Linked DNA regions of Homo sapiens. The gene in region 6 interacts genetically with the main gene of each other region. Each region holds a gene or a part of one and is shown on either strand. Other genes may lie near its edges. The genes, in order: TMEM132A, ZNF175, SERINC2, SRFBP1, PROKR2, HAPSTR1 and ZFC3H1.

The links.
Region 1: changes in HAPSTR1 (region 6) and TMEM132A together harm fitness more than expected from each alone (negative genetic interaction), as found in Homo sapiens cells (one large-scale study listed by BioGRID).
Region 2: changes in HAPSTR1 (region 6) and ZNF175 together harm fitness less than expected from each alone (positive genetic interaction), as found in Homo sapiens cells (one large-scale study listed by BioGRID).
Region 3: changes in HAPSTR1 (region 6) and SERINC2 together harm fitness less than expected from each alone (positive genetic interaction), as found in Homo sapiens cells (one large-scale study listed by BioGRID).
Region 4: changes in HAPSTR1 (region 6) and SRFBP1 together harm fitness more than expected from each alone (negative genetic interaction), as found in Homo sapiens cells (one large-scale study listed by BioGRID).
Region 5: changes in HAPSTR1 (region 6) and PROKR2 together harm fitness less than expected from each alone (positive genetic interaction), as found in Homo sapiens cells (one large-scale study listed by BioGRID).
Region 7: changes in HAPSTR1 (region 6) and ZFC3H1 together harm fitness less than expected from each alone (positive genetic interaction), as found in Homo sapiens cells (one large-scale study listed by BioGRID).

Annotation. Positions count from the first base shown.
Region 1 is NC_000011.10:60,927,460-60,930,959, reverse strand, and holds part of TMEM132A (transmembrane protein 132A isoform b precursor), read right to left. Parts: intron 3,320-3,500; coding exon 3,101-3,319; intron 2,332-3,100; coding exon 2,000-2,331; intron 451-1,999; coding exon 301-450; intron 1-300. UniProt on the Homo sapiens protein: May play a role in embryonic and postnatal development of the brain. Increased resistance to cell death induced by serum starvation in cultured cells. Regulates cAMP-induced GFAP gene expression via STAT3 phosphorylation.
Region 2 is NC_000019.10:51,569,973-51,574,082, forward strand, and holds the start of ZNF175 (zinc finger protein 175), read left to right. Parts: upstream 1-1,310; 5' UTR 1,311-1,503; intron 1,504-3,177; 5' UTR 3,178-3,357; coding exon 3,358-3,429; exon of another isoform or gene 3,430-4,110.
Region 3 is NC_000001.11:31,416,213-31,419,712, reverse strand, and holds part of SERINC2 (serine incorporator 2), read right to left. Parts: intron 1-3,500. UniProt on the Homo sapiens protein: Non-ATP-dependent, non-specific lipid transporter for phosphatidylserine, phosphatidylcholine, and phosphatidylethanolamine. Functions as a scramblase that flips lipids in both directions across the membrane.
Region 4 is NC_000005.10:121,968,475-121,971,974, forward strand, and holds part of SRFBP1 (serum response factor-binding protein 1), read left to right. Parts: intron 1-3,500. UniProt on the Homo sapiens protein: May be involved in regulating transcriptional activation of cardiac genes during the aging process. May play a role in biosynthesis and/or processing of SLC2A4 in adipose cells.
Region 5 is NC_000020.11:5,314,155-5,318,291, reverse strand, and holds the start of PROKR2 (prokineticin receptor 2), read left to right. Parts: upstream 1-1,337; 5' UTR 1,338-1,798; intron 1,799-3,914; 5' UTR 3,915-3,922; coding exon 3,923-4,137. UniProt on the Homo sapiens protein: Receptor for prokineticin 2. Exclusively coupled to the G(q) subclass of heteromeric G proteins. Activation leads to mobilization of calcium, stimulation of phosphoinositide turnover and activation of p44/p42 mitogen-activated protein kinase.
Region 6 is NC_000016.10:9,105,144-9,108,643, reverse strand, and holds part of HAPSTR1 (HUWE1-associated protein modifying stress responses 1), read right to left. Parts: exon of another isoform or gene 1,880-3,500; intron 274-1,879; coding exon of another isoform or gene 140-273; exon of another isoform or gene 1-139. UniProt on the Homo sapiens protein: Acts as a central player within a network of stress response pathways promoting cellular adaptability. The E3 ligase HUWE1 assists HAPSTR1 in controlling stress signaling and in turn, HUWE1 feeds back to promote the degradation of HAPSTR1.
Region 7 is NC_000012.12:71,636,349-71,639,848, forward strand, and holds part of ZFC3H1 (zinc finger C3H1 domain-containing protein), read right to left. Parts: intron 3,136-3,500; exon of another isoform or gene 3,007-3,135; intron 2,168-3,006; coding exon 2,070-2,167; intron 712-2,069; coding exon 502-711; intron 307-501; coding exon 142-306; intron 1-141. UniProt on the Homo sapiens protein: Subunit of the trimeric poly(A) tail exosome targeting (PAXT) complex, a complex that directs a subset of long and polyadenylated poly(A) RNAs for exosomal degradation. The RNA exosome is fundamental for the degradation of RNA in eukaryotic nuclei.

The DNA.
Region 1 (3,500 bases), on a different chromosome or scaffold from region 6:
GGGATGGAGTAGTGGCTATGAGGGCTCTACCTGGGGCACAGGATTGGTTGGCATCTCTTAGAATAAGACTCACAGACACTTGCTATGCCTGGCACATGGCTGGGGCTGGGAAGATAGTGGCCGAATGAATGAATGAAGGAATGGATTATGCCTGCTTTGTGCTGCTTCCTTGAAAAAATCTGTCCTTGGGTCTGCTCACCTGGGGATCTAGAGGCAGCATGGCAGCCTCCAAATCTGCTCAACTGCACTCTATAACCAGCCCTCCCTCCTTTGCCCCCTGGGTGGAGGGAAACTGCCCACCTGGAATCTGGCTCTGTGAGCCCAGCACGGTGGCAGGTGATGAGGGTGGTGTGGTGCCTGGAGCCCTTGAAGCGGTCCAGCTTGGCAGTCCAGAGTGTGGGCTGGGCTGGGCGGGCGGCTGTCACATGCAGCCCCTTCTTCACCTTGATCCTGGGGAAGAGAGTATAGGCTCAGTTTGGCAAGGTGCATGCTGAACTGTGGGCTGGATTGAAGGGGAAAGACAAGGAGCCAAAGCCATCTGACCTCCCTGGCTCCAGTCTGAATCTCCTCTTCACCATCCTCCAACCCAGAAGGACCCCGCCTCAGTGCAGCTCACACCTTACAGCTCTCCCCCACCCAAAGACCACTTACGCCTCCCCACTGCCCATAAGGTCAAAGCTTAGCCGGGCATTTGGGGGCCCTCCAGGGTCTGGTCCAGCCTTAACTTCGGTTGTGACATCTCTCCATGCACTCTCTGCTTCAGCTACACACAAGTTTCCCACACACACGGCACCCATTCGTGACTCCAAGCCTTTGCCCAGTCTGTGCCTTCAGCCTGCTCTGCCCTTTCTTACTTTACCTGCTGATGCTTTAAGCCTCCAACAACTCACAGACCATTTCCTTTAGAAAGCTTTTCCAGTGGTGGGATGAATTTCCCCCTTACTGCACCCACTCACCTGAGCTCCCACCGCACTTTGAACCTCCCTCAGTGCTTACACACCCACATGCCTTCTAATCCAATTCATGCCCATCCAGCTCCCTTCCCTACCACTGGGGCCCCTTTCTGCCAGATAGGGACTGGCCCTTGCTCGTGTTTGGATCTGCAGAGTGAAGACACAGGGCTTGGCAGGCTGTAAGTGTCTAGGAAAGATCTGCTTAATAAGAGTGAGCATAGGAGGGCGTAGGAGATGGGGAGACACAGAGACGGGACATGCACAAACCCAGGCAGGGCTTGAAACTAGGTCTAGGTTTCAAAGCATGTCCACAGACCGCTCTTCGATCCTCAGGAAAGATATCATTACAAAGTGAGCAAGTCCCAGTGCCTCACCCTAACCAAGCCCAGGACTATCCTGCCTAGAACTCAGGCTTCTCAGAATCTTAAAGCCTAAGAGATGCCTCTCCCATGGATTCCTGCGCTGGACTCCAGAAGCAAGTCATACTCTGCAAGCCCTTGCCGGGTGAACTGGGTAGGTGGGTGGGGGCTGCTTTGGGGGAACTTATTACGGAAAAGGACACAAAGAATCAGGGCCTTCCTATGGGGAAGAGCAAGCTCTGTCCAAAGGCTAGACTCCTACGGCGAGGGTGGCAAGGAGGGACAGCATGTAGGTGAACGTGATTGGGGCAAATATCCCTCTCTGGAGCACTGGAGCAAGAGCTCACACTTAGGTACTGCAGTCTCTAAGCCCTTTGCGGGTTCCCCTCCCTGGAGACTTGCAGCTGCCCTGAAGGTGGACCGTTAGCCCCATTGGACAAAGGAATCTCAGGGAGGTGCCAGGGGAAGGGGCAGCTTCCTACTTCTGACTCTAATTCCAGGGCTGTGCCCATGGTGGGCTCCTACCAGCACAGTCATGGCTTTTTACCTGGAAGGAGTTTAGTTTGGTGGACACATGTTTTGCAGAGGTCAAGGATTCCAGCAAGGACCCCAGGAGGAGCAGGTACCTGTCCCTAGTCTTCCCACAGAGGTTCCCACCCTCACCCATCCCCGTGGCCTGGTGCTCACCGCAGGGTCAGGAGGCTGGCTGTGAAGTTGTGCCGAAGCAGGAGGGTAGCACTAAAGAGCTGGCCGGGCCGCACTGGCATGTCAGGCACCCGCAGAGTCACAGCCTCGTCCAGAGGTACCTCCTGGTACTGCGGGGGGTCTGCTGGGCGCAGCTCCACACCCCCCACTGGGAGGGCCTGCTCCCCAGGGTCGTTCTCCTCGCCGGAGCCACAGCCCCCAGGGCCCTCAGCTGCAGGCTCAAGCGTGTAGGCCAGCTCGGCCCGTGTGGTGGAGGCCTGTGAGAACCAGTGCGAGGGAAGCTCCAGCTCCACCACGCAGGCGCCCAGGGATGGCTGTGAAGACACGACAGCAGTAATTGGCATGGGGGTGGGTGCAGGGCGAGGAACAGGATTCTCAGCACCCATGGCAGGAAACCCAGAGCTGGAGGGGCTCATGAAAGGGAGGCCCAGCATGGGCCGGAGACACAGCCTGAGTGACACAGCAAACCAGCAACCTGGCTGGGGCTTCAAACCAGGTCTAGGTTTCAGAGCATGTCCGCAGACCACTCTTCAGCCCTTGGGATAGGTCTCATTACAAAGTAAGCCAATCCCAGGGCCTTACCCTAACCAAGCCCAGGACTATCCTGCCTAGAATCCAGTCTTCTTCTCAGAATCCTAAAGCTCAAGAGACGCCTCTCCCATGGATTCCTGTGCTAGACTCCAAAATAGTGGAAATAGCAATTATAAAAGTAACACTACTAATAATGCAAACACACTGGCTGATTGATTACTCTGCCGTAAGCTATCCTTACATTCATCTCACTTGTTCCTTACTCCAACTCCAGATGGGGTAGGAATTCTTAACACCCCATTCTTCAGATGAGGAAACTGAATCTCAGAGAGATTAAGTTACTTACTCAAAGTCACACACCAAGGACTGAACTCCCTCTGGGGCCCTAAATAACCTTTTCACAGCACTGAAAGCTAGTGGGGGCAGAAATGGAGTCGGGTGGTCCACAACCCCCGCGCTTCCCAGGAGTGGGGGTTTCCTCTCTGCCGCGGGCCCACCACCTGGCTGATGCAGCTGCAGCAGGACCAGCCTAGGTGGGGCCTGTCTACTCACCTGGAAGCGGCAGGCTTGGTGAGCAGTGCCGGCAGGGTGTGTGGCATGGAGCCGGGCACAGGGCAGGCTGCCAGACCCTGGTGGCCAATCCTGCCCTTTGAGGTGGAAGAGAACCCGGGCGTAGGGCTCTGCTGGAGTCACAGCCGCTTCCACTGAAACGGCCCGCACGTCCCATGGGACTGGCCGTTGGTGGGGCTCAGTGACTCGAGGGGGGACCACCTGGAGGGAGAATGAGAGGGCTTAACAAAAGAGGAGCTTGGGAGGGGAAGATCTAGGAAGATGGGATCCCAGCTTGGCAGAAGAGAACCTTTATGGGCCTCAGTTTCCCCCTCTGGAATATGGGGAGCACAGCCGGGGCTGGGGAAGGCTCCCAATTTGTACCCAGCAGACCTCAGGCCCT
Region 2 (4,110 bases), on a different chromosome or scaffold from region 6:
GCCGTAGGGTAAATCCTATGACACAGTAAAGAATAGTCTCAGATTTATAAGTGGAGAAAATTCAAAAGTTCTAAGTCCGGGGAATTTCTTAGTAACTCAAACAAAATGTCACACTTTCTCACATAATAAAGATAAGTGTTTTTATTGATTTTACACTATTTGCTTACAGTAAATATATAATTGATGTTTTAAAATAAAAGCAGGTTTCATGCTTCATGTAACAAAGTTAGGTTCAGATACTAATGTGAAAACTCAACTATTCCTGGGAAACCATGTTCAAAAAAATGCTTCATTGGCTAAGCAGTCTTATTTTATTATTCAAATGGACTAAAAATGAGGTATGAAGTAATTAAAAGTAATATGGTGGCTTTAAGTGCAGAGATGGGGTGGCAGAAGCTGTGAACACAGAATGTAAAATCGGTAACTACAAAATGGCACAAACTACGAAAGCAATATATTTAAATTACTATTTTTTAAAAAAGAAGGATCATTTCAGATCTTCACCTTCAGATCCTCACTCAGCCCTGCCTCCTATTTCCCATAATCAGCCATTTTTTTAATTTTATGATTGCTATTACTCACCTTCTAGAATATATTTTTGTTTATTTGATTGAACAACCTCTTCCTGAAAATTCTGCCCAGTTGGGCTGGCTGACATTGATCTCAGTAATTGTGTTTTTTTCCTTTAACTTGATTATATTTTTTTCATTCGCCTCTCTTTAAATGAAGTGTCCCAAGAGCCCTAAATTCTCTCTTCAGGTGGTCGCTTGGTAGGTTACTTCATCAATAGGTTCATCCAGGTATAGAGAGCAATGGTGTAAGGATAACAAAGATACAATTTCTCAGAAAGATAACATTTTCAAAAGTGCTATTAAAGACAGTGAGTTGTTCAGCAATTCAGGAAAAAAAAGTCTTTAAATCAGAGGGAAAAATATAGAGAAAAAGTATTTTTCAGAATACATGTCAGTTTCTCCTAGAAATATATATACACAAGTATTGAATAGGTCCCCTGCCAATGTAGGACCCAAGACTTTTACTCTGTGACATTCCATTTGTCCTTGGCTGTACGGAATAAAAGCCCTTTGACGATGGCGGCCTCCAATATCATAATCCGTATGGGTGCGGCCATGCCGTCCTCCCTACCAAGTTTCTGAAGTTGAATGAACCGCGGAATAAAGGTACGCCGTTATACGCCATGATAACTGTTGGCGGAGCGTAGCTTCAAAAGTGTTAGTGGGCATGCGCGCGGTTCAACAGCGCCTACGGAAATCCTAACGGGAATGTAACCCAAACCGGAAGTGGCCTAGAGCGACCATTTAGCTTCTGTTGTTAAGTGGATCTAAGCCTATGTCGCTTACTGGACGCTGAAGTGATTGGGAATATTAGCAGTGGGGGTTCTGTAGGGTCAGGAAGGGGCGGCTGGCTTTGGGGGAGTGATGAGGGGCTTGTTGGGGGTGGGGGTGCGTGATAAAGGGATTTCTCGGCTGAAGACGAGGCTGTGAGGTGAGTGACGGGCTTGTTTTGGCTGAGCGATGAGGGGTTTCTGGGGTGGGTGATGGGTGCTGTGGGGTAAGTGGCGTTTGCTAATTTTAGTTGGATAATTAGCCTGTTAATTTTCCCTCTTTTCTTGCTTATTTTCTGCTTGTAGTATTTTTGTGACTTAAATTCCAAGTGTACTTTAATATCGGATTTTATATTGGTCCACGAAACTTGCTAACTTGAGGACAGTGAACGTGCATCTTAAGAGCGCCTTTGCGGATGGTGCTGGAGGACGTTCAGGGAAGGGATTCACTGTCCGTGGGACTAGGGGAGTCAGTGATTGATTGGCAGCCAAGAGCTTCAGAGGTTGGAGGACTTTGAGGATCACACTGTAACACTCTCAGGGGACCAGTGATGGGCAACCTATAGGAATCAGTAGAGTGGGGTTGCCAGGGGTAGCCTATGGCAGCCAGTTGACTGGAGGCGTAGGGGGTCAATGATGGGGATTTGTGAGGGTGAATGCATTGCTTTCTAGGCAGTGAGTGTTGGGGTCCTTCAGGGATTGGTGGGTGGGTCAGTGTTGGCCTCTTCTTGGGTCCCTTGGACATGGTAAGGATCAGTAATTGACAGTTGAGCACATCGATGATGGTTTCCTATTGGGGCATTTCATTTGGACCCCTATGTTGGGGATTATTTGTCGTTTTATGGAAACCAGAAAATTGTGCTCGCTGGGAAACATTTCTTGGCTATCAGGGCAGTAAAGATTTCAGAAGCCTGTGCCATGTCAGTGACTGGGAGGCATTTTGGAACTTTCTGGCAGCCCTGTAGTACACTCATTGGGGATTTCTGAAAGTCAGTCCTGTCAGTGATTGCATTCAGGTGCGGTGGGGGCAACTTATTGTGGACAGGCAAGAAATGGTAACTGGAGGCCCTGATGCATGTCTGCAAATTTTCTGTGTCAAGATGGGGATTGGGACAGTGATTTTAAGTTTTAGCTCTAGTCAGAAGAGGCTGGTCTGTGTGTGGTGTATTATGGACGGGGACTGAAAAGTCCAGAAGCTCAGAATAGGTACACCAGACAGAGCCACCTCCCGGCCTGAGTTCTATGAAGGCAACAGAAAGAGGAAATGGTGTTTCTGGAAGCTGGCCACGTATGGGTACATGAGATAGTGGAGACAGTGTACAGTTTAGAACAAGGCAGATGTGGGGCTGATTCCCTGTTTTTCCATTTACAGACTGAGTAACCTTCAGGCAAATTATGTAACAGCACACAGCCTCATTATCCTCATCCTCAAAATGGGTATGATAATGCCCATGATATTTAGCTGACAATTAAATTGACAACTTTCTTTTTTTAATTCATATTTATCACGTGCCAGGCAGGCACTGAGGACTTGACAAGCTTCATCTTGGTTAAGTTTCCCAACATCTGTGATAAATACCTGCATTTTCATTTTGGAAACTACAACTAAAGTAATATTTTCATATTCTCACAGTGAAAATGTGGCAAAGCTGCAATGAATTCACCATTTAGTCCAGACTCAGTCTTTATTTTTAACCCTGACTAATAACTAGAGTTGGGCTTTCTGAACTTTGTCTACTCCAATGTCTGACACAGTGACTTCACCTCAGTGCCCTCAGGAAATATTTGTGGAGTGAATGTTGAATGAGTGACCATGTACTCATTGCTTTTCCAAGGCTTCTGCAGAACCCCCAGGTCAGGCCACATCATTGAGGCTGCAGGATCTCTCTTCATAGCCCAGTACGACTCTCCGCCGTGTCCCTGGTTGGAAAATCCAAACACCTATCCAGCTTCTGGCTCCTGGGAAAAGTGGAGTTGTCAGCAAGAGAGACCGAGAGTAGAAGCCCAGAGTGGAGATGCCTGCTGATGTGAATTTATCCCAGAAGCCTCAGGTCCTGGGTCCAGAGAAGCAGGATGGATCTTGCGAGGTAAACAGGGGCAGCCCTGGGGATAGTTCTCCAGAACGTGAGGGCAGACACAGGATGCAGCAGGTCTGGGCTCCCTGCTCCTGAGTCAGTCTTGAGCCTCCTGTCAAGCGAGGACCACAGAGGCTGATGTTTCCACATTCATAGGCTATCTGTGTTCTAGAGGAAACCATGAACTGGCTGATAAAAGAGGATAGTAGAGGGTTGGCCTTGGGTCAAGAAAGAAGAAACTGTAGTCCCTGGTCTGATCAGAAGCCCCAGTCATAGGATGGAAAAGCTGACTCTTTCCTGCTAAGCACTGGTTCTGCTCCTTCATCCACCACTGGGTCTTTGAAAAATTTCAAGTGGTCCCCCCCACCAAATTCCTTGCTTGGTCCATGGGGTTTGGCCCGTTTTTCCTCTGTTCTCATAAGGTGCGGCAAAATCTCCTTCCTTTGTAATTTAAATAGTCACAGGGAGGTAGAGTGAGAAGAGGCTTTTAAGGACCATGTGAAGAGGCTTTTAAACACTTTTTCCTGTTTAAAAAGGTGAACAAAAAATGCTGGAAAACAGTGTTTCCAGATTGCCCACAGATAGAAATAGTCAGGATTTGGTAACAAGAAATCAGAATTCTTGGTATAGTCAAGATTTCCTGAAATCCTAAATTATTCTGTGTATCTCTTGATGCTTTATTTACAAGTCTTT
Region 3 (3,500 bases), on a different chromosome or scaffold from region 6:
GGACCACAGGCATGCACCACCACACCCAGCTAATTTTTGTATTTTTTGGTAGATACAGGGTTTTCTCATGTTGGCCAGGCTGGTCTTGAACTCCTGGGCTCAAGGGATCCTCCCACCTTGGCCTCCCAAAGTGCTGGGATTATAGGCATGAGCCACCATGCCTGGCCATTAGGGGAAAATTGAAAATAACAAAACGCCCATCAATACATCATGGTATTCCATAAAACGGATTTCTCTGCTGAATGGGGCAAATATGTAGGTAACACTTAACTTGGGTACATTTCATTGTATACAAATAATACTTCAATTAAGTTAAATTTACAAATATAAAAATAAAGATTTTTATATAAAGAAAAAACTTAAATAAGCTTTAGGTTTTGTGAGCCTATTGGAGTCTCAAGAAACTACAAAAAACCTAAATGTCTAACACCTGGGGACAGCCGTGGCCCTTTCACTCCATGGAATGCTACAGAGCCAGAAAGATGAATTCCCTGGCTACAGAGCCACATGGAATAATGCTCATGATGCAGTGTGAAAGGAAGGCAGACTGGAAAGCTGTTCCCACACTACGATTACAACCACTCCCCTCTTCCTGCAGATGCACTCAAGGGCAGCAACAGAAAAGCCCCAGAACACTTACAGTGGCTGAATCTTAGTACCAGCCCAGGTTCTCAGAATGGAGAACTCAGAATTTAAGAAGCCCCAGGCCTCAGAGCCTTACAGCTGCAAGGTTCCTTGGCATTCAACCAATCCATTCTCTTTCCAATGAAGAACCACCCAGAAAGCATCTGGCCATCCTCTGCTGCTTGCACACTGCCAATGACAAGGAGCTCACTACCTCCCAAGGCAAGGCAGACAGCTCTGGAGCCATGAGTCGTTTGGCATTATGTGAACAGGCTGTCACTGAGTCATTCACATTGTCTCCTGGTTGTCCTCAGAGCCAGGGACAGAAGTTCTTAGAACCACTCATAGGGTGTTGGGTGGGTAAGGGAGGCAGCTGAGGGCTGGATGAATTTTTCTATTTAAAACAAACTGGCTGTCTGGGCGTGGTGGTTCATGCCTGTAATCCCAGCACTTTGAGAAGCCAACACAGGCAGATTACCTGAGATCAGGAGTTTGAGACCATCCTGCCAACATGGTGAAACCCCGTCTCTACAAAAAATACAAAAATTAGCCAGGCATGGTGGCAGGCATTTGTAATTCCAGCTACTCAGGAGGTTGAGGCAGCAGACTCGCTTGAACCCGGGAGGCAGAAGTTGCAGTGAGCTGAATCGCGCCAATACACTCCAGCCTGGGTGACAGAGCATGAGTTCGTCTCAAAATTTAATAAAATAAAATAAAATAAAGTGGCCCTCCACTTCTGGATATATATCCAAAAGAAATGAAGCAGGGACTCACATATTTACACACCCATGTTCATAGCAGAATTATTCACAGTAGTCATAAGGTGAAAACAAGCTAAATGTCCATTGGTGGACGAGATGAATGGATAAACAAAATGTGGTATATCCATATCCATACAATAGAATATTATTTGTTCTTAAAAAGGAATGAGGCCAGGTGCGGAGGCTCATGCCTGTAACCCCTGCACTTTGGGAGGCCAAGGCGGGCGGATCACCTGAGGTCAGGGGTTCGAGACCAGCCTGGCCAACATGGTGAAACCCTATCTCTACTAAAAATACAAAAAAATTAGCTGGGCATGGTGGTGTGTGCCTATAGTCCCAGCTACGCGGGAGGCTGAGGCAAGAGAATTGCTTGAACCCGGGAGGTGGAAGTTGCAATGAGCCGAGATTGTGCCATTGCACTCCAGCCTGGGCAACAGAGCAGGACTCTGTCTCAAAAAAAAAAAAAAAAAAAAAAGAATGAAATTTTGACACATGCTATAACATGGATGAACCCTCAGGGCATTATGCTAAGTGAAATAAGCCAGACACCAAAGAACAAATATTGTATGACTCCACTTAGATGGAGAGAGTAGCCAAACTCATAGAGAAAAGCAGTGAATTGGTGGTTACGAGGGGCTGGGGAGTTACTGTTTAGTGGGAGTTTCAGTCTGGGAAGATGAAAAAGTTCTGGAGAAGGATGGTGGTGATGGTTGCATAACAGTGTCAATGTACTTAATGCTACACTTAAAAATTGTTAAAATGGTACATTTTATGTTATGCATCTTTTACCTCAATTTTTTTAAAAGGGAGGGGGCAGGGAGTTTTCAAAGAAGAGCAGGAAGAGGCGAGAAGGGTATTCCCAGCAAAGAGAATGACACATGCAGAGCTACAGGGACACTGTATTTTCAGGGCAGCTGAAAGGGTGAGAAAAGCTACAGAGGTCACGGAAGTGGTGGTCAATGTCCCTGTATGCCATGCCAGGGAGTCTGGACTTCACCCTGAAAGCAATGGGGAATGATTGCGAAAGAAGAGGAATGACAGCAGATTTGCATTTTAGAAATATCACTTTGATCACAAAAAGACAGGTCATGGGGTAGTGTGTGGTATCTTTGGGGGAAGGGAGGAGAGTCAGGGGCTGTTGTCAGTAATCCAGATGAGGGCTGACAGTAAGAAGATGTTCTGGAGTTACCGTGTGCCTTAGTTGGCACTACTCCTTCTGACAATGCCATTCGTTTGGGATTAATTTTTATTAGGGTTGTATTTATTAGATCTCCATTTTAATATACATGTCTTCTAAAATAAATTACAGGCTGGGTGTGGTGGCTCATGCCTGTAATCCCAGCACTTTGGGAGGCCGAGGCCAGTGGATAACTTGAGATCAGGAGTTCGAGACCAGCCTGGCCAACATGGTGAAACCCCGTCTCTATTAAAAACACAAAAATTAGCCAGGCATGGTGGCGCACGCCTGTAATCCCAGCTACTCGGGAGGCTGAGGCAGGAGAATCACTTGAACCTGGAGGCAGAGGTTGCAGTGAGCCAGAATGGTGCCACTGCACTCCAGTCTGGACAACAGAGCAAGACTTCATCTCAAAAAAATAAAGTAAAATAAAATAAAATGAAATAACATACAAACTCCTTGAAGACTAAAATAAAAGGTTAAAAGAGTAAATTTTTTAACATGTATTTCGTCACAGTTTAAAAAATGCAAAACTGGCCCAGGCAAGCATGCACCTTGCCGCCTTCATGAACAACTCCGTAACTGGCTGAGCCGCCCCAGGGCTAGTCAAAACACAGCAGAGAAGAGGTCAGCCGGAAATGTCCCAAGGTGCACTTACTTCCCCCATGCAGTGCCAAGAATGCAGGTCCTAATGCTGGCTCTGCCACAGCTTGTAATCTGACCTCAGGCAAGTCTCTCCTCCCCTCCATGGGACTCAGTTTCCTCATCTGTAAAATGATCTCCTGGGGTAGGAGAGTACAGGGGCTCCGAGCCCAGGCTCTATAGTTAGGCAGCCCTGGGTCTCACTGGCTTCAGCACTTCCTTGCATGTAGTCTTGAGTCATGTACTACTGTGGGGTGTTTATGGACCGGCCACTGCACACCAGCTTGGTGCTAAAT
Region 4 (3,500 bases), on a different chromosome or scaffold from region 6:
TATTTTATTCACCAAATGTTACTTTTCAGGTTTTATCCATGTAATACCTACAGATCTTTTGCATTGATTTAAAATACTACATTGCTATATGCTTTATTTATATACGTTATTTTCTCTCTCATGCTACATTTTGTTAAAATGATGCAATGAATAATCTTGTGTGTAGCCTTTTCCTATTGTTGAGAATGTGTCTTCTGAATAGATTCCTAGAAGTAGGACTTTTGTTAAAGTACAGCATGGTTTCCCCCAAAGGAGTAAATCAGTTTGCATTTCTACCAGCAGTGTATTTGTCTGTTTCCTCCAACTTCATACAAAGAATTTGTTGTCGTAGTTTTTTTGTATTTACTAATCTGATAGGTAATTAATGAATAAGCAGAAGTATTAGTATTCTTAGAAACACTTTCTTAACACTGCAAGTTCCCCTGGAACAATACTAGCTCCTAGAATAACTATTTTCTAATAACTATAGATTTTTGTTACAGGCTAACTCAAAAACATGGTAAAGTTGGTGAATTTTCAGAGGCTAACTGGTTGGCCAACTATCACATAGCCAGCCAAAAGTCAATTCAAGTAGCATTTAATTTTGTCTTTGGACCAAAGTCTCCTGTCTGCTTTGCATATCAGAAACTTGCCGTCATTGTCACCCCAGAAATAGAGCTCATTCTCTAAAAAGCAAATTCATGTTAAACCTAAATGTATAAGAGATTGTGTGAATGAGAAAGCTAGTTTATTAAAAAACGTGTCTAATATGCGTAATAAATGCTCACATTGTAAAACACATTCTTTTCCTGTATACTGACCATCAGCTGCTTGGTATGTAGAAATACAGAAAGGGGTTTTAGTTGCATGATTCATGTTGAGCTGTGATGCATCTGTTCCCATAATTGAGTTATTCCAGAACAGATTAGATTTCTCAAGTCTCTGAGCTGGGGAACCCTTTCTTTGGAATTTCCTTGAGCTGGACACTGCCAACTTTTGCCTCTCTGTGGTTTCCTTTCCTGTGTTTATGTTGACTCTTCTGAGTCATCTCACATGGTCTTTTCTCAAATAGCTATATTAGACTTCCACTTTATTTATAGTATTTTTATACTGTCTATGCAAGAGATGCCCTATGTTTAGATTTTGCCAGGTTAACTTTAAAGGCTTCTGTATGTCTAATTTCTAGGCGATACTTCACTGTCAGTACATATATATTCGCTGGGTATGTAAGTCTTAATTCTTTTTCTTCAGACCTTATAGATTGTCTTAAATGCATTCTCTTGCTGTTTGGAAGACCCTTGGCTTGGCTTAATCAGTCTTGTTGGTGATGGCCTCAGATTTTCCCTTCAATTTCTGTCTTCAGACCCCTTCCTTCTACTTGTCTTTCATTTTCTTTCTTCTGTGTCAGCATATTTTATTTACATTTCTATGCCTCTGTTTTCTCTGTGCTCACACTATTCCTCTGTTCTTTCCGTCCCAAACAATAATCATACTGTTTTTACAATTCTAACAATGATAGTTCTTGCTTTTGGTTAGAGTTTTGCCAAAATGTACTGCCATTAAGCAGTGCACTTGGACTTCTGGCAGTATTGGTGTGTTAGGCCTGTTCATTGACTTCTGGGTTGTCAGCCAACTTTACAATTCCTGGGTGACAAATAAATTGGCAGCCTTTTAAATCCTAACTTAAAGGCTATATTTGTCATCAGTTTTGCAAAAATCTAAGTGCTTGGGGAAACCTAAGTCTTAAGTATATGAGGTATTCCTTTTGCTTTTAGAATTCCCTTATCCATTCATGGCAAACATAGTATTTCTTAAATTGGAATTTTAAAATTGGAGACGAGCTTTGTTATGATTGGAATGTAACCAAGGACCAACTCTACCCACTGCAGTTTATTAGTTTAGTTAACAGTGGTTAGCAAATGGTATATTATCATCTCATGCACCTGCAAAGTTCAGCAATTAGAAACATTTGTTAATATATTTTAATGTGCAGTTCATCGCTTGCTATTAGTTTATTTTATGAATAACTTAACTTTAAAAAATGTATCATGACACTGTATAATTCTGTTTATGCAACGTGGCCGTTCTTTTTTTTTTTCCTTAAGCCTTGTCTGTGTGCCTTTTCATTTATGCAAAGTATGATTTTTTTTTCTAAATGGGTCTTTGAAACAAATTCCTAAGAGGTTAACTTATCTAGCAGGAAAGAAACCTGATTACTGTGCATTTTTAAAATATATTATGCATTTGAAACAGTGAATAGACAGTGTGTATTGCTACATTTCTGGTCATTTATTTAACCAATATTTATTGGACACATACTGTGTGCCATGCACTATGTTAGGTGTTAAGATGCAGTGTTGAATAAAACCAGATACTTGATCAACTTCACAGAATTTATAACCTACTGGGGAAAGACACATTAAAAATAATCAGATTAAAAGTAAAGTATTAAGTTACCAATTAAAGGTACTTGTGACCCTCTCAGGGAAGCCAGAAAAGACTTCACAGAAATGACAATTGGTCCAAAATCAGGATGAATAGATGTTAACAAGTTGACATGGGAAAAAAGAACATTCTGACCAGTGGAAATGGTAGGTGTAAAGGCTTTGTAGTAGACGTGAGCATGGTGAGGACAGGGGACTGAAAGGCCAATGTGATTCTTCTGAGAGCAATTGGACACCGTTAAAGAGAGTTACTTAAAGGTACGACATTGGATATATACTTTAAAAAATTTTATTGCGATGGCATTGTGGATAACTGATTGGAGAGAGGCAAGAAGAACAGGTGTGGAGAAACCGGTTAACAGTAACTCAGCCAAGATTGCAAAAAGGTCAAGATAGGGAAAAAAGTGGTACAATTTGAAAGATAATTAGGATTTAAGATTAATAGGACTTGGAGATTCATTGTGAAGGATTAAGAGAGCTACCTCTAAAGACCTTTAGGTGTATAACTAAAAGGATTGTTCCATTCTCTGAAATATGAAACCCCCCCTCCCCACAAAAGAAGGGAAGGGTTTTATTGGAGGTGAAGAACATGAATTTAGGTGTGAATTTGAGGTGATTTTGAGCGCACTCAGAAAGAAATGTCAAGCAGGAAGTTGCACATTTGGGCTTGAAGCTAAAAGGAGTGATCTCAGCTGAAGGTAAAATGTTTGACTCCTCTTTGTTTAGGTGGCAAATTAAATATGCACACATAAGATCTCTTAAGGCTAAACAATGTATTGTGAAAAGAAACACTGGCTTGGGACTGCCCCCTCAACTCTTAACATTTTATGACTGGGTAGAGGTGGATGAATTTTCAAAGAAGATCAAAATAGAGTGAGTAGAAAGGAAAGAAGAAAACTATCTTGGAAAACTAAGGGAAGAATGTTTGAAGAAAGAGAAAGTGGTCAAAAATGTCAAATTTCCATTGGATTTCAGGGGCTTTTTTGGAATTCATTGGTGTCCTTAGTGACATCTTTTAGTAGACTGATGAGGATGAAAATCAAACTGGATTTGTGTGGCATGCAGAAATAGAGATAC
Region 5 (4,137 bases), on a different chromosome or scaffold from region 6:
AAGACAACTCCCCGTAGCACTCTGTTGCACTGTTTTCTAAGCACCCACTGTCTCCCTGGGGACCACATGTCCATCCCCAGAAAAAGCTCCTACTCTGCTGAGGGTGGTCAGGACTTGGAGTTACTACAGCGACATCTGTGGGTCGCCAGATCTGTGTGGAAGCAACCATGCCTTAACTCATCTCAGAGGATTCCATGAAAGCACCAGCGGGCAGATGGTCCCAGGGGTCTGTTTGCCCCCATTGAATAGGGCAGGCATGGTCCATGAGCGAAGAAGCCTCTAGCTGAAGTTGGTAAGTATGCACTATTGCAAAGAATGTGTCCAGGGCGTACAACTGGCCACCCCATCATCTCCCCCACTCAAGCAACAGAGCTTTTTTGCCTCCATATCTGGAAGTTGCCCTGAGCATGTAGAACACCTGCCCAATCGCAGCCCCTCCCCAGGAGGAAAGCAAACAGCTGGCTCTCTTGCCTTTGATCATGCGGGAGAGATGCTAAGAGGTAGGGAGAGTGGGGTCAGGTTCCAGGTAAGGTGGGAAAAGCAGAATCACAGAATGTCACAACCTGAAGGAGTTTGAAGTTCATTTATCCAAAAATTTTTAATTGGCAGCCTTGTGGACTGTGTTCAGTCTGAGACAGGTTCTCTTTGACCAAAACAAGATTTTTGCTTTAACGAACCCAAAGACTATTTTTAAAGTTCTCGAATTCCAGATTCTCTTGAAAACAATGGGAAGCTCTGACAAAGTGGAGTCCATGTTCCCACCTGCCAATAATCCGCTGGCTGGGGTTTAACGATGGGGAACACCTTTTTAGACCTTCAGGGTCCTGCCACAGGTTCAATCCTGTATGCCCAGAGCTTCCTGGGCACCAGTCATTTGAATGGGCAGTTCCTGTGTTTAACCAGGAAGGTCGTGGGAGGATTTCGAACCTGTCAGAAGCAAAGTGAAGGGCTCCAGACTCTCCGGACAGATGGGCTGAGGCACTCCTGGGATTGTCTTTATACGGCCATGGAATCTGATAGTGGTGGTCATCGCAAAGTTTGGGTGAGGACTTCAGGGGCTTTGAGCAGAGCAAACTGTCCCCATCCCCAGCTTCCTCCTGGGGGCCTCCTCCTTCACCGCCATCTCCAAAGGCCCACACCGCACTCGTCGGAGCCGGGCTTTCCTTGAAAGGGTCACCTTCTAGTGGGCGCGGACGCTGGCACTGGGCACCTCCGGAAGACAGGACTCTCCCCTCCTGCGCGCGCGACCCGGGTGCGGTGCCACGACTGGCGGCAGAGGGCGGTGCTCACTGTTCCCAAGCGCACGGTAGAAACCCGGCTACTGTGTGGTCCGATTCAGACGGGATGCGAAGGCGCTGAAATCCGTGCGAGAGGCTGCCCCCGCTGCCGGGGACTCGCGTCAGCGCGGCCGGAGCTACGGTGCCCGCGCCCTGGACGCACCAGCCCGAGAGCACGCGGTGGGGTGGGGGAGCTGGGCATCCACCCTTGGCCTGGACTAGGAGGCAGGCGGGGACCCCGGGGCGGAGTCCAGCGCGGGGCGGGGCGCACAGGTCCGAGACGCTGGAAAGAGCTGTGGGGCCGGAGCGCCAACTCCAGCTGGAACCCAGAGACCCTGACACGCCGGAGGAGCCCGCCGGGGCGAGGAAAAAAGAGGGACATCCCCCACGCAGCGGCTCTGCAAGTGCAAGTCCGGGTCCTCGAGGTGAAAACCGAGCGGCCCGCCTGCGCCCAACCACACTGTGACTCTCGATCCGGCTTCCGGAGCAGCAGAGCGCACAGAAAGGAGGCGCCGAGACAGGTAAGGGCTTAGATCCCTGCAGTCCCGGGACTCAGTCGGTGCGGTGGGGGAGTCGCTAGGACAAGGGCCTCTGACGCCCACTTTTTTCTCGGGCATTCCGGCTGCTTTGCCTCCCGCCACTCTCGAGATATGCGTCGGGGCTGGCTCCAAGCAGGCGAGTTGGTTTCAGGAGATCCCCTCTGGGCCCTCTAGGACCGGGTAGGGTACGGTAAGCGGAGTCTGTGGTGTGCGGGCGCGGGCAGAGGGAGCCAGCGGGTAGCTGAGCTCGCGGACGAGCTCCAAATTGCAGGGGAGGGTGCAGGTAGAGGGGCACCTTCCTGAAAGGTGAGCAGGAAACAGCAAGCGTCCGTGGGGAAATTCCCGCGCACCGCATCCTCCACCCACCCGCCGTTTTCTTCCAGCCAGGAGGCACCGCAGCCTTTGCTTCTAGAGCCTGAATTTCTGACTTGATTCCTGTCTTTGCCAGGATGTCGCCTCTAGACGCCGACAGTGCGGCCGCGTTGATGGGGCGGGAAGGGGGCTGCTGGAACGGGTCGCTCCCGGGCGGGGAGTGCAATCTACGAAAATGCGGCTGGGACCTGTCCCAGCCCGGGCGCGCGCCCTCTTGTCTTGGGTTAGGGGGCTGGAAAGCCGAGGAGGGGTAGGACTCCCCATTCTTGGTCCCACGCTGAGCAGAGGCTGCGGGGATTGGGGTGTCGCATGAGACGGAGGGGCGACCTGGAGAGAAGACACCTCCGGGTGTGGACGCCACTGGGATTTGCATCTCGCCTCTTGGAGGTTTTCACCTTGGGAAAGCAGCTGGCGGGCGCACCCCAGGTTAGGGTGTCTTTTGCTGGCGCGCAGTTCCTGTCCCTCGGCGTTCTCCTCCCCTCGCAGGAGTGGACCAAATGCATTGTTCAGCTGGGTCATCTCCTTGCTACCCAGCATCCCGCGGCGCCCACATGTGGAGTCGTTTCCAGGTGTGCTGAGAGGCGAGGGGAAGGCCACTCACAGCTGGACAGCCAGGGCCCCTTTCTATAGGTGTTGGGATCTGGGCTCTTTTTCCAGCCCCTCGGTGAAGCCTTGTACCCTGGGGTGCCCTATCTCCTGCGGGCTGAGGGCTTCAGAGACTATTTTCCCTATTTTGAGACCTTGGTGACAGGACATGGTGCCTTTCAGGCAGGGTTGACTCTGGGTGGAGAACTAGGGCCAAGTGAAGGAGGTCAGAGAGCAGATCCAAAGTTGGAGTAGGGTGGGAAGGGCGGCAGAGGATTTCTTTCTGGAGCTGGTTCCCACAGAACGGGGAGCAGCAGGGGAATTCCCCTCCCCCACCCCACCACCACCTCCTCCACCTACAGCGCCCTGGTCATGCACTCAACAGATGTCTGTCTAGCCCCCACTATGCACCAGGCACTGGACTGGGCAGCAGGAATTTGGTTTACAGGAAGATTAGGACTCAGAGAGCATAAATCACTGGCCCAGGGTGACTCAGTCTGTCCATGTGAAAGTGAACTTGGTGATTTCCAAGTCTATGGCTTGGTCAGTACAGAAGGAGTGGTGTCCTGCTTTGGAGAGAAGACCCCGCAGCATCCTGGCCCTCCTGCTTCATTGTCCCTGGCCAACAGGTGCCACAACGTTGTGACAGCTGTAGGAGCCTGGCCAGCTCATGGGAGCATCCTTGGAAATGTTCCAGAAGCCCCTGTGGGAGCTGATGTGTTGGGGGCTGGAGGATGTGACTGGGCAGACAAAGAGGCCCTGGCCCCTGGGCAAAGGGCAAAGGTGCACATTCTTCTTGAGAGTTCTGGACAGTCTGATCCATCCTATGCTGTCCTTCCTGACAGCTGGGCAGCCACGGAGGGTTTCCCAACTTACAGATCTCAGGTCTCCTCTCCCCGCATCCCGGGTAGTTCCATCTGGTTAGGCAGTGGGTCTGGTTGGCCTATACTTGGGGAACTCAGGGAATGTGACCAGATGTTCTCCTGCATGTTGCCCACTGGTTGTGCCTCCTTCCAGGATCCAGGACGGTGAGTCAACTCTCCCCAAGGATGTGGGCAGGGTGCTAGGCTCACTGACCCTGAAAGAGCAGAAGGTCTGGACCCTCACCCCTCGCACCTCCCTCACACCACTTTTCTTGCAGACATCACCATGGCAGCCCAGAATGGAAACACCAGTTTCACACCCAACTTTAATCCACCCCAAGACCATGCCTCCTCCCTCTCCTTTAACTTCAGTTATGGTGATTATGACCTCCCTATGGATGAGGATGAGGACATGACCAAGACCCGGACCTTCTTCGCAGCCAAGATCGTCATTGGCATTGCACTGGCAGGCATCATGCTGGTCTGCGGCATCGGTAACTT
Region 6 (3,500 bases):
TAAAATTCACATCGTTTCTGATTAATTTTGAGAAGAAAAGCCTCAAGATCTTTCCCACCTCGACACCTAAGCCCTAGGTCTTAGTGGGGGCGACGTCGTAGACAGAAATCCCACATCTAAAAATGTGAGAGCATAGTGGTTAAGGGTATGCATTTTGAGGCCAGGCATCATGGCTCATGCCAGTATTCCCAACACTTCGGAAGGTCGAGGTTGGGGTATGGCTTGCACCCATGAGTTCGAGACCAGCCTGGACAACATGGCGAAACTCCAACTCTACAGAAAATAAAAAATCAAAAATAAATATATTGAAAATTAGAAATTTTTTTAATTAAAAAAAAATTTGCATTTTGGAGACAGGACTGGAGTATCTATTCTACCACTTACTAACCTGCTCCATATCTTAGCCAAGTAAGGCTTTCTTCATCAACAGTGTTAATAACCCAGGGTAGGTGTGAGGATTAAATGACAACCTCCTTAGTGTGATGCTTTTACAAAGTAAACACTGAAAGAGTAGGTTTAATGGTTATCACCCTAAGGTCCCATGGAAGTCTCAGTTGTTCTAATTCAAGATTACCATGTAGCACCCTAGGCAAACAGGTTACATTATTCCCTGATTGTAGCTATCTGGGGATTGTAATCCTCAACCCTTTCTAGAGGTTCTGGGTCCCCACTGTGTTGTATTCACTTAGCAGACCTCTGTGATAACCCCAGTGGTAAACTCAGACTACACCTATGTCAGGTTCTTTGCTATGTTCTGTTAAAGCCAAAAAAAAAAGGACCAAGACAAGGTCCCTGCTATGTGTCCCGAGGAGAATGGAACAGTCACAGAAACAAATCAAGCAGCAGAGCAAATGCACAGTTCAGGGAGGCTACAGAGATTGGGAGCCCTGAAGCAAGGCTGTGTCACAGAAGTGAGGTATGAACACGTAGGGGCTGGACTTGTCAAAGAGCATAGAGGTATTCAAGAGATAAACAGTATGGGTAGGATACCTAACCAATGGTTAAGACTGGATCATAAGGGTCTTGTAATACCATGCTGAATTTGGACTTCACTGTGTAGGCCCAGGGAAACTTTAAACCATGAAGTGACAAGACCAGAAAGATCACTCCAATGGTCTCATGAAAGATGGACTGGCAACAACAGCTCAGGACTGGAAAGTGAGAGCTGAAACATTAGGCCAAGAGCCCAGGCTCACCTCCTCCAGAGGGCCTGCCCTGAGCACCACACAGCCGGGCTGTGCTGTGAAACATCCCTTTCTGCTCTCAGAAGACCTTCCACATACCACATTCATGACGTGAATAGAAATTAACCAAATCCATATTTTGCCTCAACAGAAAAAGGAATCGCTCTATGTTTATGTATTTCCAGAGACAGCACCGAATCTGCCATATAGAGAATGTGCTGAATGGCTCAATGGCTCAATGAGTCATTCTGCTGTTGGGGCAGAAGAATGAGTCCAACCTGAAACTTCATCTGAGATAAATGCCTGTGGGACAATTTGGAGATGTACACCGGAGGACAGTGGGACATGCCATCTGGCAGTCAGGAGAGAAGGTCTAAACGAGAGGTCCAGATTTGGAAGTGAAGACATGGGAAACGTAATCTAGGGCAGTGACAGGGCCTGAGGACAGGTCAGGCAGGCCAATGTGGCAGAAGAGAAGCCAAGGTAAGGAGAAGCTCTAGAAAAGGGATGAACAGAGGACCAATGAGAATGGCAGGCAGAGATCCACAAAGTGATCCAGAAGATTTCTGGTCTCAAGTATGCTGTTTACATAAAAACGAGTTACCAGTTGTTGGTATTAATTCAACTCTTGGGAAATTTATAATAATGTTATTTTATAACATTATTATAGGATAACAAAGCAAGACAGAAATCAATTTAGCACATGCATGTTTATCTCTTTAATTCCTCTGTGAATCTAACATACAGATGACTAGGTCCCATAGGACACAGGAAAAAAAGCAACATGTTGCGAACAAGTGTCAAAATAAAGCACTGAATTAGTCTTTAAGCCTTGCTAACCACTAATTGAAGTAGCTTTGATAAAAACTATTTGAGGCCAGCACAGTGGCTCACACCTGCAATCCCACCACTTAGGGGCAAGCAGTGAGGCTAAGGCAGATCACTTGAGGTCAGGTGTTCAAGACCAGCTTCGCCAACATGATGAAACCCCATCTCTACTACAAATACAAAAATTAGCTGGGCGTGGTGGCAGGCGCCTACAATCCCAGCTACTCGGGAGACTGAGGCACGAGAATCATTTGAACCCAGGAGGCGGAAGTCGCAGTGAGCACTACACTCCAGCCTGGGCTATAGAGCGACACTCAGTCTCAAAAAAAAAAAAAAAAACCTATTTGATAACCATAAATTGATATGCCTTACTTTTTTTTCTTTAAATAGGGAGAGGGTTTCACCATGTTGGCCAGGGTGGTCTCAAACTCCTGACCTCAAGTGATCCACCCACCTTGGCCTCCCAAAGTGCCGGCATTATAGGTGTGAGCCACAGCACCCGGCCAATTGATATACTTTTGATTAAAGCTGTTTACATTAGTCTCTCCCACTAAACTGGGTTCCCAGGCTTACAAGGGCAATGACTGGGGATCTCATTCATTGTCATACTCTGTCTACACGAAATATTCAGCAGGTGTCAAGTCTGCCATTTTCCTTTAAATTAAGAACACAGTTATTTGGTTGGGCTGTATTTGATGGGGGTAGGGGTAAGGAAGGGGAAAAAAACTGAGGGAAAACTGTCCTCTCTTAAATACATAGGACATGAAGAGGAACTGAGTTTGCTTTCATTATAAACTCAAGCCTGCCTCAAAATACCAGATTCTTTTCCCATGTCCTTGTGCTTGCCAAACGCATGAATTTAGACTCACCCACAATGTAAAACTCCAAAACCTTCAATTTGGCCTAACTTAGAATTCATAAATTTGGCTAAGCAAATAATATGCAAGAGTGAATTGTGACATTGTATTTACCCTAACTATGGTGTTTCCAAATACATTTTAAAAGAGCACCTTAACAGTTTTCACTTCAGACAAATCAGATAATAAGGACACCCAGTTGAAGTCACTAATCTATGTTACTAGTTAATAATGGCCCTAGTACTAGAACCATTCAAATTACTTTCTTTAAATATTCAAATTAAACTACCATTCTCCTTAATACACTGATGTTCTCACAAACCAGTACAGCACAACTCAGTATAATTTATGTTTCTGTAGATTCTTTCAAGGGGCCCTATTACTTCACCACAACACTGTCTTAACCACATGAATTAGAGGTATGAACCCTAAGAGTAAGAATGCATTCAGTCTCCAATCTATACTGGATTAGTGCTACATTATAAATTTATTGAAGGTAAAGATCATTTTCTTCCTAGACAAAGCCTTATATTTAAGTTTTAAAGCCTCACAACTTAAACATGTGAAAATTATAAACAGTCCCTTCAACTGTATCATTGCTTAAAACTCCCAAAGTTCAGGAAAACAATAA
Region 7 (3,500 bases), on a different chromosome or scaffold from region 6:
ATAAATTTTAAAAATTTGTATTTATATGTGAATATATGTGTGTATATAAATAAACCAAGGGGTAGAAAACAGGACAGCTAAACTTCATAGAAATTTATCATAACTGTTTGAATAAAAGTAGCATTAAATTTTTGTTTTTACCGAGATCACAGTTCGTGGAAGACGGGGTCCTCTGTGAAACTTTGGATTCTGTATCCTAGGCTGAGACACTGTGTTAATACTGACTATTGATAGATTGCTTCTTGGCACAGGATGTGAATTGTTCAGAACTGGAGGTGAAGGTGGGTCACTATTACTGGATGTTTCCTACATAAGGAAGAGAAAGACATTAAACATTCCTAAATAAAAATAAATTTCTGCCACCTTTAAAAATCTTGAGCATGTTAGAATTATCCCCACTTTGCTGAAAAGCCCAATGATGCCCAAGTAACCAGAAAAAAGTAGGACTACCGTAAAGCTAAGCTCAAGAGCACCACCTAGAGGTTTAGGTACCTAAATTACCTCTGGCTTAAAAGCTCTTTTATTTGCTAGAGATTTAAGTAGTTCTTCTCGAAGCAGCATTTCTTCCTCCTCTTCCTCATCTGCAAAAGGTGGTTTTGGAGGCTGTTCTGGATCTTCAGGTGGGAGAGGTGGTAATGGTGGTAGAGGAGGTAGAGGTTCAAGAGAAACACACAAGCCTTCCACATAAGGCTGGCTCAAAGGTGGCAGAGACTATTTTTTAAAAAAAGAAAGAATTACAACGCAAATTTTATCAACTCAAATGCTTCTCTCTGCAGCAATATTAAACTAGAAAAAAATAAACTTTACATTATTATTTTAGCTGTAAATATAGTAAGCTAAGTATATGTTAACCTCAAAACAAACCAGAAATCAATAGCCAACCACGAAAAAGTGTTATTTTTACAATTTTAAAAAAAATCAACAATATTTGAAACATTTATTAACTTCAAGGAAAATTATAGAAACTTCTCTGTTCCAATTCTTATATCCATTTAGCATTCTAGAAGATATAGATATCAAACTATACAGGGTCCTTCCTTCTAGATGACTACCTGAAAGCAAGTAGAGGTACTGAAACCCAAGACATAATATTTCAGTAAAAAATAAAAATTAGAAACCAAGGGATTCTGTGAATAATAGTCCAGAGTACTTTAATCATTAATTAAGTATCAAGAAGAATCACCACTACTCTCTTAAAATGGCTTCTTAAAGAATATCTATAAAGGAAACTAATTTTACACAAATCCCTAAATTTGGATATGTATTTGCATCAAAGATCTTCCACTATTTCCCTTGGCATTTAGTTCATTTATTCATTCCCAAAAAGAAAACATTACAACGAAGAAAGTGCTGTTTTCTCTCTCACTATCGGCTCTAATATTCCCCTCACCATATATGTTCTAGAAAGACACTAGACGTCTTTCCTGAAACGGAAAAGTTCCCTCTTACACCTACTGAGAGATACTCAATTTGATCTCTAGGTCCTCTCAATCTAAAAATAATGTCAAAACTTTTAATGTGTGATTCCTCTACTTCCTTTTTTTCCTTTTCCTTTTATTGTTTTTATTTTTTTGTTTTATTTTTAGTGGGAGGACTGGAGATGGGGGGGAAAAGAAATTAACTTCATAGAAAATGCTTTTCTTTTGCTGGATTTTCAAGTTAAAAATAACCATTTTTATGAAAAGAGGAGAAAGGAGAGTATTAATTTTTAGAAGCATCCTAATGCATGTAAATTCCAATTCCCTAAAAAAGAGACAGTCCAAAACAGTAGATAACTTCTGTTTTTGAATAAATTTTCTGAGTAGCTACTATCTGAGAGTAAAGTGAAGAAGGAAACATGATAGGTACCGAAAAGTCAACATGAAATTAAAAATTAGCTATGAAAAAAATCTACCAAATGGATAGCTTGCTGGTATAATCAACTGTTTATTCTACGTATTTCATTGCTATTAATTCTTGGTAAGCAATTCTGATTTTTTAAGCCCTCTTCAAACCTAACCATTCGTTTTTAAAAACAAATTAGAAAAGACAAGACAAAATAATTTTCTTAGAAATCAATTCTGACTTACAGAAACCTGAGGTGGTGGAGGCAAAGAAAGAGATGGTGCTGGAGAAAAATACCCCAATGAACATTCAGAGAAAAATGGCGGTTGCACTGGTGAAGGAGCTGTAAAAAAATTTTTTGTTAAGAGTTTAATAACAGAAATACTTCATCAGGAATATATTAAGTTTATGTTATGTTTGAAGAAATACATCTAGGTGGAGTGCAAATTAGATTTTATCAACCTCTGATAAAATCTTTAAACCCCTCATGAGTCCACCTCCAGCCATTTAAAATTGTCATATCATCATAAAGTCAGCCATTCACTTTAAACTAATAATTAGTCCCTCAAAACTCTCACTTTGTTCCACTTTTAACCTAATGATGAGAACAGGGAATAAAGCAGGAAAAGACAGAAACATACTTTAAAAAAACAAACAAAAAAAAACACAAGCATATTTTTTAAGAAATAATGAAACAAAAAATTCCCTTAAATTCTGCCAAAGTGCCCTAGCCAAAGGAAAACAATGATGTGGTGACTTCATTATTCCCTTCTTGTGGAGCAAAAGAAAGTTGAGGACATGGACCATATAAGCTGTGTTGAAAGTAAATAAAACTAGGAATGAGAAGAATTACTTAGTGTATTTAGTCAATAAGGTGCACATTTTTTCACATTTTAATTTTGAAATAATTACAATTGATGCATCTCAGCATTTTTCTTCCTTGGTAGCAGATAAAAATAATTGTGTATTTTATCTTCAATGACTTGTTAGGCTCACTGAAATACAGCAGTTTCAAAGACTACTCTTACTACCCTACCCACTAACTATATAATCAGAGAAAATCTAACATTTCTTCTTTATCCCAGTTGTCTCACAAGTCAATACATTATTATCCACATGCCTTATATGGGGTTGACTTGAGTCCCAAATGAGATAATCTGAATATACACTAATCTTTGGAACATTTTACATAGCGCTGCAGATGTGGCTGCTGTGTCACATTTGTGTTATTAGGTGGCAGAGAGAAGAGAGGCTATGTCTATGCTCAGTGTTCTGCCCCATGAACATTTGAATGTTTAATAGTCAGACACTTGATGGTGCTATTGTTTTATGGACTTGGCATGTTTTCCCTTCCTAGTATCTGGGAGAGAGGGTGGACCTAGTGAGTGCAGTGATCTCCGAGGAAAGCCCTCCAGGCTGCACTATCCTCATCCAGATTTAACCAGCCCTGACTCACTGCCAGGTGCCAGGAGAGGCTTCTGAGGACTTTCTGACCTTTGTGTTGGGTCAGCCACTAGGGGGTCTGAAAGGACAGTGGGAAGGTAGAGGGTGCCCTCAGCAAGAGTAGCCTTCATTCATGAATTTTAGAAACTAGTGGTAGGAAAGATGAAGTCCATTATGTGCTGGTTCATGCTACCCACCATGTCAGGATCATCCAGGAGGACAAAGAACTAGGC